2 separate regions of the Homo sapiens genome follow, and region 2 is linked to region 1. Evidence: fine-mapped expression QTL. A gene starts in region 1. The other region holds a variant in brackets. All regions are shown on one strand. Distances are from middle to middle.

Region 1 (5,000 bases):
TAAAAAACAGAGTGAGACCCTGTCACACACTCACACACACAAAATTATTACCCCCCCCACCTAAACTCTCAAATTATAATTTCATTCTCCCCAACTTCAGACTTTTTGGCTCATCCTATGATTAGCAAATGCTGTATATTAAGATAAATTTTTTGACTGCAATTGAATTCTGCTTTGGTGAATTCAAGTAATCTTAGTAGGAACTCAAAATCCGATTCTTTTTAAATTGTAATCATTCTAATGTGATCAGTTGATTCACTTATTTAACAGTTAAAAGCTTCATTAGTTAATTTGTTGTTTAAAAGTAAAGTCTAATGCAACGCTGTGCATTTCATTCATTCATGTCCCATTGTTCTTTATTACTGGCACTTAATTATCTGTGGTAACAGAAGGATGTATCAGCAAAGATTATCTAAAAATTATTTTTATTTTGTTAAGGAACACAATAGCTCTCCATTCCGCAGCATAGAGCACTAACTTTATTTTTATTTTTTTAGAGACAGGGTCTCACTCTGTGGTGCAGGCTGGAGTGCAGTGGAGCTCTATCATACCTCACTGCAGTCTCTGCAACTCGTGAGCTCAAAATGATCGTTCTGCCTCAGCAGCCCAAGTAGCTAGTAGTAGCAGTGCGCACCACTACACCCGCACCACCATGCCCGTAGAGATGGGGTCTTTGTGGCCTGGCTGAACTCCCAGCCTTAAGCGATCCTCCCACCTTGGCCTCCCAAAGTGACGGGATTACAGGAGTGAGCCACCACACCCAGACACTAATTTTCTAGTACAGTACAGAAAGTCTTTTATGTCGGGCTCTAACTTACCATTCAATGTATGTTTCAGCTACAGGAACAAATCATGAATTCCTAAAACAAACCATAATATCATGACTTTGCAGTTTCTTTATCAAAGTCCTAGTGAGCCTTCACATCTTAGTTCAGGCAATAAATAAATAAATCCTGTAAAATTTCCAAGATTAAGCACCCCTCCCCTATGCTCCCACAGAACCACTGTACAGTCATATTAAGATAATAATAGTTGTTTATACATTAGTCTGATGACTAAACAGTGAGTTGTGGAGGGCAGATGCCATGTCAAGCTCATTCTTGTAATGTGAAGCTCTCCATAATTTGTAATTTGACTACAACAAATTACAAATTATCTAAAAAAGTTTTAAGATATTTGACAGATTTTGCATTATAAAATTATTTTCCTACAATAAAATGTCAAAATGTAGACGATTCTTGAACATAGAGCAGATAAAAGAGTTGTGTAAGGTGGGTATGGAGCGGACTAAAAATTGGCTACATGAGAGTCATGGATGACTTTTGTGTCCAAGTTCGTTACCTGACACCTTCATGTAGAACATAACCTGGGCATCCTCGTGCTTTATCTGGGAAAATAGCCCTCTTCCAGGTGGCAGAAAAAAGAAATCATTTGTACTTGAATAAGTAGGAATTCTTAATTCAAGACACCTGACCCAGCACTAAACTTGGAAAAAAACCAAGACTAGTATTATGTCCCCTAGTGACTGCTTCACACACCACCTCAGCAAATTTAATCCTCTCTAGAAATTAACTGCCATGTTTCTGAGACAATCTCGTGAACTTAAATAACTATGGCAAAAATCAAGACTCAAACCCAGGTCTTCTGAGTCTGGTGCTACTGCCTCATGCACCAGTCCTGTCTCCCAAAATGCTGTAGAGCTGTTAAATAAAAATATTATACTGACCTCATTTCTCAAACAAACTTTTTGCTACCTCAAGTAAAAGATCTAGTTACACTACATGTGTGCCTTCTTAATAACTGTATACTATTGGATTTTTAAATCGAAAATTCATCTTTAATCCTACATCTTGGTTCTGGACAGAAAGGTGGAGATTTAAAATAACATGTAATCAGAAAAATAGCTAATCAATCCTACAAAATGGGGGAGAAAACCTCGCCAAATTTCAGTTTTCACACATTTAACTAATAGTAACAAACAACATTAGTCGTGACGAATTTATTACCCAGATAGACTTTCCCAATATATTTACTTTGGTACTTGAGAAAAAGTATTAAGTGCAGCATTTTGGGGTGAGGGGGTGGACACACATCTTCAATACGCAGTTTCACCAAAATGAGGGAGTTTCCTACTCCCGGCGCCTTCTATATTTTTACTTCTTAGGCCAACAGGTCCATTTTTAATACAATCACCTACTTCGAGTTGCAGAACCCACAATTCACCACAACACAAAAATAACTCTCAGGGCGTCACGATATTCAAAAACTGACGTTACCAATAAGACAATCTTGGCCGAATCTAAGGGGCTACCGAAGTCACTTCGACTCGAGGCCGGGCTGGCCGAGCCGGAGCCCTGCCCGCCTTTGCCCCGCGCTCACCGGCGAGCTCACGCGCGACACCCGCGGCCCGCAGGGCTCCGAAGACCCCCCGCCCCACGGCCCAAGAGGAGGCCGCCCCGCGCCAAAGGAGGGCTCAGGCTTCTTCCCGTCACCCGCCACACGTCCCTGAGGAAGACACACAATCTGTCCCCTGCACCCGCCACAAACTCCACCACCCGACCAAAGGCCCCTGGCAAGGGAGGCCTGCGCTGTGGCCCCTTGGCCCCGGTGGCCCCGGACCAAGCTTCTCCACCTCATCCTGAGAGGAAGCGGCCTCCGCGTCCCCAGGCCTCTTCGTTTCCTCCCCTCCCCCACTCGCGGCCTGGTCCCGAACTAGCGCCCAAGACGGAGAAGAACTAGCTCCGCAGCTCATTACCCCGGCTCCTGAGCCGGCACCGACCAGTGCGCGTCCCACTCGCAGCAACACGCACCGCCGCCTTTCTCCTTGGAGTTCTAGGCCCGTGACTGAGGAAATGCAGTCGGCAGCGAAGCACAATGGCGCCCGCCCCTCTCCCGGATCCGGCGCAGAACCAGCCACCACCGTTAAGTGCCCCTCCCTGCTCCTCCTCCCCCCACTTCGCGGACTTCCTGGCTTCTCGCGAGAGTGGCGGCGCGGCGGGGACCGAGAGCTGCGGGCGGGCTGGAGGTACCCCACCGCGGGGTGGTGCTCTGACTGCGGGAACCGTTGAAGAGCTGCCCCCGGGGAGTCAGCGAGGCGCCACTGGTAAGCGGCAGCGGCTGGCTGGCCGGCGTGCCGGCAGCTGGGCTGGCGAGTGTGCGGGCGCCGGGCGCTGGAGGCCCGGGCCGGGGCGGTCCCCGCCCGTCTATAGTCTCTGAGCCAGCCCCTTCCCTCCCGGGCGCCGGGTCCCCGCCCACAGGCCCACCTGCAGGGCCCCGTGCTCGAAATAACGCCCAGCTGGTTGGCTTTTTTTTTTTTTTTTTTTCTTTTTCTGGCTCTTGGTAAGTGGCGCAGTGAATGTTGAATTGAATCAAGCACTGCCTTTTCCGACCTACCCCTCCCCGCTTGCTTCCCTGCCCGCCCTGTGTGATCTAACTGCAAGCCCTTTCCCTTAAGAGTTGGAGCCTGTTTGTCCAACCTTGTGATCATTTCCTTGTGGTAAGAATCTTGGTAAATGATGGTGATCATGTCTTTTAAAATCGTGATAGTAACCTTTAATAGCGTAGCCATCGATTTTGCAGTAAACAAATTCACCTATTTAGAAAGAGGGAGGAAAATTGTGAGGTGAATGGTCTGGTGAATATTAGATGAAACTTTCAAAGAACTGTAAATGTGGCAAACTAAGATGTAAATGAGTACTAATAAATAAAAGGGAGTAGGTTAGGGAAAAGCTACATCTAACTATGTGTAAATATTTAGATGATATGTTGATTTGGAATAATGAATCAAAAGTTTTTTAATGGAAAAGATCAGTTATTGAAACTTGGAAGAATACTGAAAGGCACTTGATTTTTTTTAATGACCTATTTTGTTAAGGTATTAAAAGCAATCCTTTGGATCCAAATAATTCCAATAAATGAAACACAGTGTTTCTACGTGTTTGTCATTACATCGGAAGGGAATGGAGTATCAGTCACTATCATCCTTATTTTATTGTCTTGGGGACTAACAGACTGTACATGTTTCACTATGATAAATTCTAAAATACTATAAATTTTAAAGACTTAAAGGTATTTTAAGTTGGCATGTAAGTGCCAATCTAACTTTTAGGATATGAAATGAAAATAAGCATCTGGTATGGGATAAAGTGAACAGAGATTACTTTTGAGGAAATTAATTTGCCCTTTAAAGAAAAATAATTCTTTTCCAGCCTGTTCGAGTGCCCCTGCAGCATTGTGGTTATAGATACACGGATGTATACACCCTGAAGAACCAGACTATATGGCTTCAAATTCCACCCCTGCCTCTTACTACCTTTGTTATCTCAAGCAATTCCTTAACCTTGCTAAACCTAGGTTTCCTGTAAAACGGGGTTAATAACAGTACCCATGCTCTGTAGCATTGTTTAGATGAGATAACACGTCAGTTCCTGAAACAAGTAAGCATTCCGTAATTGTTAGCTATTACATTCCATGTCTAAACCACCAATAATATTGTTTCTTTCTGTGACTTAATATTACATAGGTCTCTTAGACATCTTCTCAAGATTATGCTAAGAGAAATGACTGCACCCTTTTCCTGAGCTATGGCAGTCAGACCTGGCAGTGGTAACTACTCTACAGAACTCCCAAACCTGGCAAGGATGGTGCAGATTTTGGCAGATTATGGCTTTGTCCCCACCCAGCACTGATGATATTATAAAGTGAGTATGACACCAATTTCCTATGCTAAACAGAGCTTCTAGTTTTTTATTGGTGCTAGTAAATAAAGACCACTGATGAATATGTTTTTATTATTTAAGAATGGTTCGTTGTGTTTCTTTTTAATGTACTCTCTCTGATTTTAGTATTCAGGTAATTATCATGAGTGATAAATAATTATTGAGATTTTGCTATGCTGCAGACATTTTGCAGCCGGGCGCCGTGGCTCATGCCTGTAATCCCAGCACTTTGGGAGGCCAAGGTGGGTGGATCACGAGGTCAGGAGATCGAGACCATCCTGG
Region 2 (5,532 bases), 110 kb before region 1:
CTGCCTACTCGAGCCTCAGCAATGGCGGATGCCACTCCCCCGACCAAGCTCTAGCGTCCCAGGTCAATCTCAGACTGCTGCTATGCTGGCAGCGAGAATTTCAAGCCAGTAGATCTTAGTTTCCTGGGCTCCATAGGGGTGGGACCCACCTAGCCAGACCACTTGGCTCCCTGGCTTCAGCACCCCTTTCCAGGGGAGTGAACAGTTCTGTCTCACCGGCATTCCAGGCACCACTTGGGTATGGGGAAAAAAGAACTCCTGCAGCTAGTTTGGTGTCTGCCCAAATGGCTGCCCAGTTTTGTCCTTGAAACCCAGGGCCCTGGTGGGGTAGGCACCAGAGGGAATCTCCTCGTTTGCAGGTTGCAAAGACCCTGGGACAAGTGCACTATCTGTGCCAGAGTTCCTCAGGCTCAGTCCCTCATGGCTTCCCTTGGATAGGGGAGAAAATTCCCCGACCCCTTGCATTTCACAGGTGAGGCAATGCCCCACCCTGCTTCAGCTCGCCCTCTGTGGGCTGCACCCACTGTCCAACCAGTCCCATTGAGATGAACCCGGTACCTCAGTTGGAAATGCAGAAATCACCTGCCTTCTGCATCAATCTTGCTTGGAGCTGCACACTGGAGTTGTTCCTATTTGGCCATCTTGCCAGCAATCCATCACAAAAGTGTTTTTCTTTTGTCATTTGTGCATATGTAAGAAGGCTTTGCTTACCCCAGGGTTATGAAGACTTACTCCTATGTTTTCTTTCTTTTCTTTTCTTTTTTTTTTTTTGAGACAGACTTTTGCTCTTGTCACCGAAGCTGAAGTGGTGCAGTGGCATGATCTTGGCTCACTGCTACCTCTGCCTCCTAGGTTCAAGCAGTTCTCCAGCCTCAGCCTTCTGAGTACCTGGTATTACAGACAACCGCCACCACGCCCAGCTAATTTTTGTATTTTTAGTAGAGATGGGGTTTTACCATGTTGGTCAGGCTGGTCTCGAACTCCTGACCTCAGGTGATCTGCCCACCTCAGCCTCCCAAAGTGCTGTGATTACAGGGGTGAGCCACCATGCCTGGCCTTCCATGTTTTCTTCTAAAGATTTTATAGCTGTAGCGCTTATATTTATGTCTGTGATCTACTTTAATTTTTGTGTGTGGTGAAAGAAAGGGGTCCAACTTCATTTTTTTTTTTTTTTTACATGTGGATATCCAGTTTAGAAGACTATTCTTTCCACACTGAATTGTCTTGGCATCCTTCTTAAAAATCAATTGACTGGCCAGGCACGGTGGCTCATGCCTATAATCGCAGCAATTTGGGAGGCCAAGGCGGATGGATTATGAGATCAGGAGTTCAAGACCTGCCTGGCCAAGAGGGTGAAACCCCATCTCTACTAAAATATACAAAAGTTAGCCAGCCGCGGTGGTGGGCACCTGTAATCCCTGCTACTCGGGAGGCTGAGGCAGAGAATTGCTTGAACCCAGGAGGTGGAGGTTGCAGTGAGCTGAGATCGTGCCACTGCACTCCAGCCTGGGTGACAGAGTGAGACTGTGTCTCAAAGAAAAAAAATATTAATTGACCATAAGTATGCACAACTGTGAACAGTTTATGTCCAGAGAAGAGATTTCTGTGGTGACTTTTATAACTTATCAATCATGTTTTAAATAAATAAAATAGTTATGTTCATTTCCATGCAATTAAACGTATATGTAAGAGAAAATAATATTTTTTTATTTCAATAGGTTTTTGGGGAACAGGTGGTGGTTGGTTACATAGATAAGTTCTTTAGTGTTGACTTCTGAGATTTTGGTGCACCCATCACACGAGCAGTGTACACTGTACCTAGTGTGTAATCTTTTATCCCTCATCCCCTCCCACTCTTCCCCCCGAGTTCCCAGAGTCTATTGTATCATTTTATGCCTTTGCATCCTCATAGCTTAGCTCCCACTTGGTGAGAACACACAATGTTTGGTTTTCCATTCCTGAGTTACTTCACTTAGAATAATGATCTCCATTTCCATTCAGGTTGCTGCGAATGCCATTATTTCATTCCTTTTTATGGCTGAGTAGTATTCCATGGTACATATATACCACATTACCACATTTTCTTTGTTCACTTGTTGATTGATGGGCATTTGGGCTGGTTCCATATTTTTGCTATTGTGAATTGTGCTGCTATAAACATGCATGTGCAAGTATCTTTTTCATATAATGACTTCAAGAAAAGAATATTTGATGACAAAAATGAAATGTTATTACTGAAGGATGGTGGAATTATAGGTCAATATTTATAGTTTGTATTTATATTCAAATTAAAAATGAGCATGATTTACTGTTATAATCAGAAAATATCTTAAAGGGTTATACATAATCATACAACCTTTTAGAAGGTTGGGAAAAGAGAAAATTAGTCAAGTTTGAAATCTTAACTGTATAAGTGTAATTCAAGTCTTGATTTAATCTCTAAGCATAGGAAAAAATGTTTCTTCTCTAGATAAGTCTCTTATGTGGTTTGATAAGACCCCACTGTCATATACACATTGGAGAGCAGGAAGACCAACTATAAAAAATGAGAAGTTTTTGGCTGGTTTAAGTACTGACGGCTTCTGGGATATTCAAACCTTTAAAGTTATTGAAGAAGCAGTTTATTTTCACCAGCACAGCATTCTTGCTTGTAAAATTGAAATGGGTAAGTATAGTAAAATATAGAGTTTTCTTTCACTCCAGGGAAAGAATATAAGGCTATTAGTTCCACCAGTGGGAATCATACAATCAAATGCTTCCTCTGTATTCAGTCCTGTGCGAGGTGTTACAGAGGTTATCGAGGAAGGAAAAGATACGGGCCCTGCTGTCAAGGTTTTGACCCTAAGGAGTAAAATGTAGTTGTGGAGACAGCATTAAATTCCTTATCATTGTTTAATGTAAATTGGTCTTAGATTAATTGATACAGGCTTAAATTGTGGGGAAGTCAAAACCGATACATTGGAAAGGGGAATAACAAAAAAAAA[AG/G]GAAAGGCTTCAAGAAGAGGTGAAACTTGGTTGGGGTTTGAAAAATGGATAGGGTTTATATAAATAAGAAAGTGTTTGGGGAACGAGTTTTAACATTCCGTGCAAAGTGAATGTCTCTCCACCTTGCTTAATCTTTAAATAAATCTATTTTTAAATATATGTTAGTTTTAATTTTTTCACAGCTTAAAAACTGTTAATTATTACCACTGTGCCCTAAAACTGTCATTACTCCCACTGTGCCCAAAGCTCCCTGCTCACTGGGAGCCCGTAAAGGTGGAGTGCTGGCTAGTTGGCTCACTTACAGCGCCGCAGTCACTTCCCAAGACCGTGTCCACCAGCAACCTCCAGGGATTCCTTATTCTAACCTACTTTGAGTGCATGTAAACTTTTGAGACATTTTAGAAACTTAGTCTCTATCCCCAGTTTCTAGGCCTTCTCCCAGTTCCCTGTTTTTCCCCATTCTTGCTCAGCAAAGCATCTTTTTCTCAATCAAGCTGGTCTCTTCATTGTCCCAGGCACAGTGTATGCCCATCCTCATACTTGCACCTTTATGTTTTCCTTCTGCCAAGAAGTTTTCCAATTTCTTTCTTTCTTTATTTTTTTTACATCTTTAATAAACTTTTCATTTTAGGATAGCTTTAGAGTTACAGAAAAGTTGCAAAGATAGTACAGAGCATTCCCATCTACCCTACAATCAATTTCCCCTACTGTTGGCATATTACTTTAGTATGGTACATTTGTCACAACTAATAAACCAATATTTATCCATTATTATCTTTAACTAAAGTCCACACATTATTCAAATTTCTGTAGTTTTTATTTAACATACTTTTTCTTTCTAGGATCCCACCTAACCTTTAGTTCTCCTGCCTCCTTAAGCTCCTCTTGGCTGGCTGTTTTCTCAGACTTTTCTTATTTTTGCTGGCCTTGACAGTTTTGAGGAACACTGGTCATGTATTTGGTAGAACGTCCCTCAGTTTGGGTTGGCGTATGTTTTTCTCATGATTAAACTGGGGTTATAAGTTTTTGAGGGAAGACCAAAGATGTGAGGGAGCATTCTCACTTCACATGGACAGCATGTACTATTCATATGACTTATCACTGGCCACCTGGCCCAAGGTAGTGTTTGTTAGGTTCTCTGCTGCAAAGTTACCTCTTTTCCTCCTTTCCATACTGTCTTCTTTCCAAGGAAGTCACTATGTTGAGTCCACACTTAATAGGGTAGAAAGTTATCCTCCACCTTCCTATGAGGGGAGTATCGATATAAATTACTTGAAATTCTTCTGCACAGGATATTTGTCTATTTTCTCCAATTTTTATTTTATTTTATTATTTTATTTATTTATTTATTTTTTTGGAGATGGAGTCTTGCTCTGTCACCCAGGCTGGAGTGCAGTGGCGCCATCTCAGCTCACTGCAACCTCTGCCTCCTGGGTTCCAGCGATTCTCCTGCCTCAGCCTCCCAAGTACCTGGGATTACAGGCACGCCCCACCATGCCCAGCTAATTTTTTGTATTTTTGGTAGAGACGGGGTTTCACCATGTTGGCCAGGATGGTCTTGAACTCCTGACCTCAGGTGATCCCCCCGCCTTGGCCTCCCAAAATGCTGGGATTACAGGCGTGAGCCACTGCACCTGGCCCCAATTTTTAAATTTATTCAGTCATTTATTTATACCCTCATCATTGTAGTTTTTTTGTTATTTGTTTGTTTGTAGCACTTCCATACTTTCTCCTTACCTTCTTTTTATTCTTGATTTCCCCCAATCCTCTAGACCTAGTATAGGTTCATTGTTATTTATTTTATACTTTGGATTATAATCTAACATACTGCATTCTGTAATATTTTGCTTAAGTCTTTCCAGCTTTGGCCCTTGGGAGCTCTTTCACTTGGCTCCCATGTCCCTTGAAATAACCTCGTCATTGTGGCTTTGCTGTTTGTGCTTGTTTTAAGCACTTCCTTACTTTCTGGTTCCCTTATTTCTTTTTAGTCTTAATTTCACCTAACCCTTGAGACCTGGTTTATCAAGTAGTCTTCCTGACTCTTCTCATTCAAATGAATCTCTACCAATTTCACATACCCTACTGGTTAACAGTTTTGCCATCATTTCAGCCATTGTTGTTTCTGTCTCCAACTAATATATGAGCTTCTTAAATCAAAGAAAATGTTTATGCCTTTTAAAATATCAATCAGAGAACTTTAAGAGCCTAAGATATGTGTCATACCAGTAAGAAAAATAAAATATACATTTGACCTCCCTTATTAATAAGAAACCCAGTTTTATTTAACTTTTGAAATGATTGCATGTTGTCTCATCCAAAAGATGTATTTGAAATAATTTAAATTTTAATCACCAGTGCTTTTAATTATTATAGTTGACTACAAAGAAGAATATAATACTACACTGCCACAGTTTATGCCATATGAAGATGGTATTTACAGTGTTATTCAAAAAAAGGTAACATGGTATGAAGCATTAAACATGTGTTCTCAAAGTGGAGGTCACTTGGCAAGCGTTCACAACCAAAATGGCCAGCTCTTTCTGGAAG

Direction of the effects. Positions count from the first base shown, and alleles are read on the strand shown. Sizes are in standard deviations (SD) of each study's normalised expression.
For the expression in lymphoblastoid cells of the gene that starts at base 2,911 in region 1, AG is the low allele of the variant in region 2 and G is the other (small effect, 0.31 SD a copy in TwinsUK).

The links. PIP is the estimated chance that this variant, and not a neighbour inherited with it, causes the effect. A credible set is the group of variants that fine-mapping cannot tell apart.
Region 2: its variant is the best candidate, but not a certain one, in a credible set for the expression of MARCHF7 in lymphoblastoid cells (TwinsUK, PIP 0.70).

What each region holds. Positions count from the first base shown.
Region 1 is chr2:159,710,417-159,715,416 of GRCh38, reverse strand. MARCHF7 (membrane associated ring-CH-type finger 7) reads right to left here and starts at 2,911. Exons shown (of 12, transcript NM_001282805.2): 1 at 2,811-2,911; 2 at 819-860. It also overlaps a transcript of BAZ2B not described here. RefSeq lists silencers at 2,313-2,432, 2,953-3,462 and enhancers at 2,623-2,902, 2,670-3,336.
Region 2 is chr2:159,816,859-159,822,390 of GRCh38, reverse strand. LY75-CD302 (LY75-CD302 readthrough) reads left to right here. Exons shown (of 38, transcript NM_001198760.1): 29 at 2,471-2,665; 30 at 5,359-5,532. It overlaps LY75 (lymphocyte antigen 75), which reads left to right. Exons shown (of 35, transcript NM_002349.4): 29 at 2,471-2,665; 30 at 5,359-5,532. Among named protein-coding and RNA genes, the nearest start is that of CD302, 21 kb to the right of the region's middle. The variant AG/G (reference allele first, on the strand shown) is at 2,985.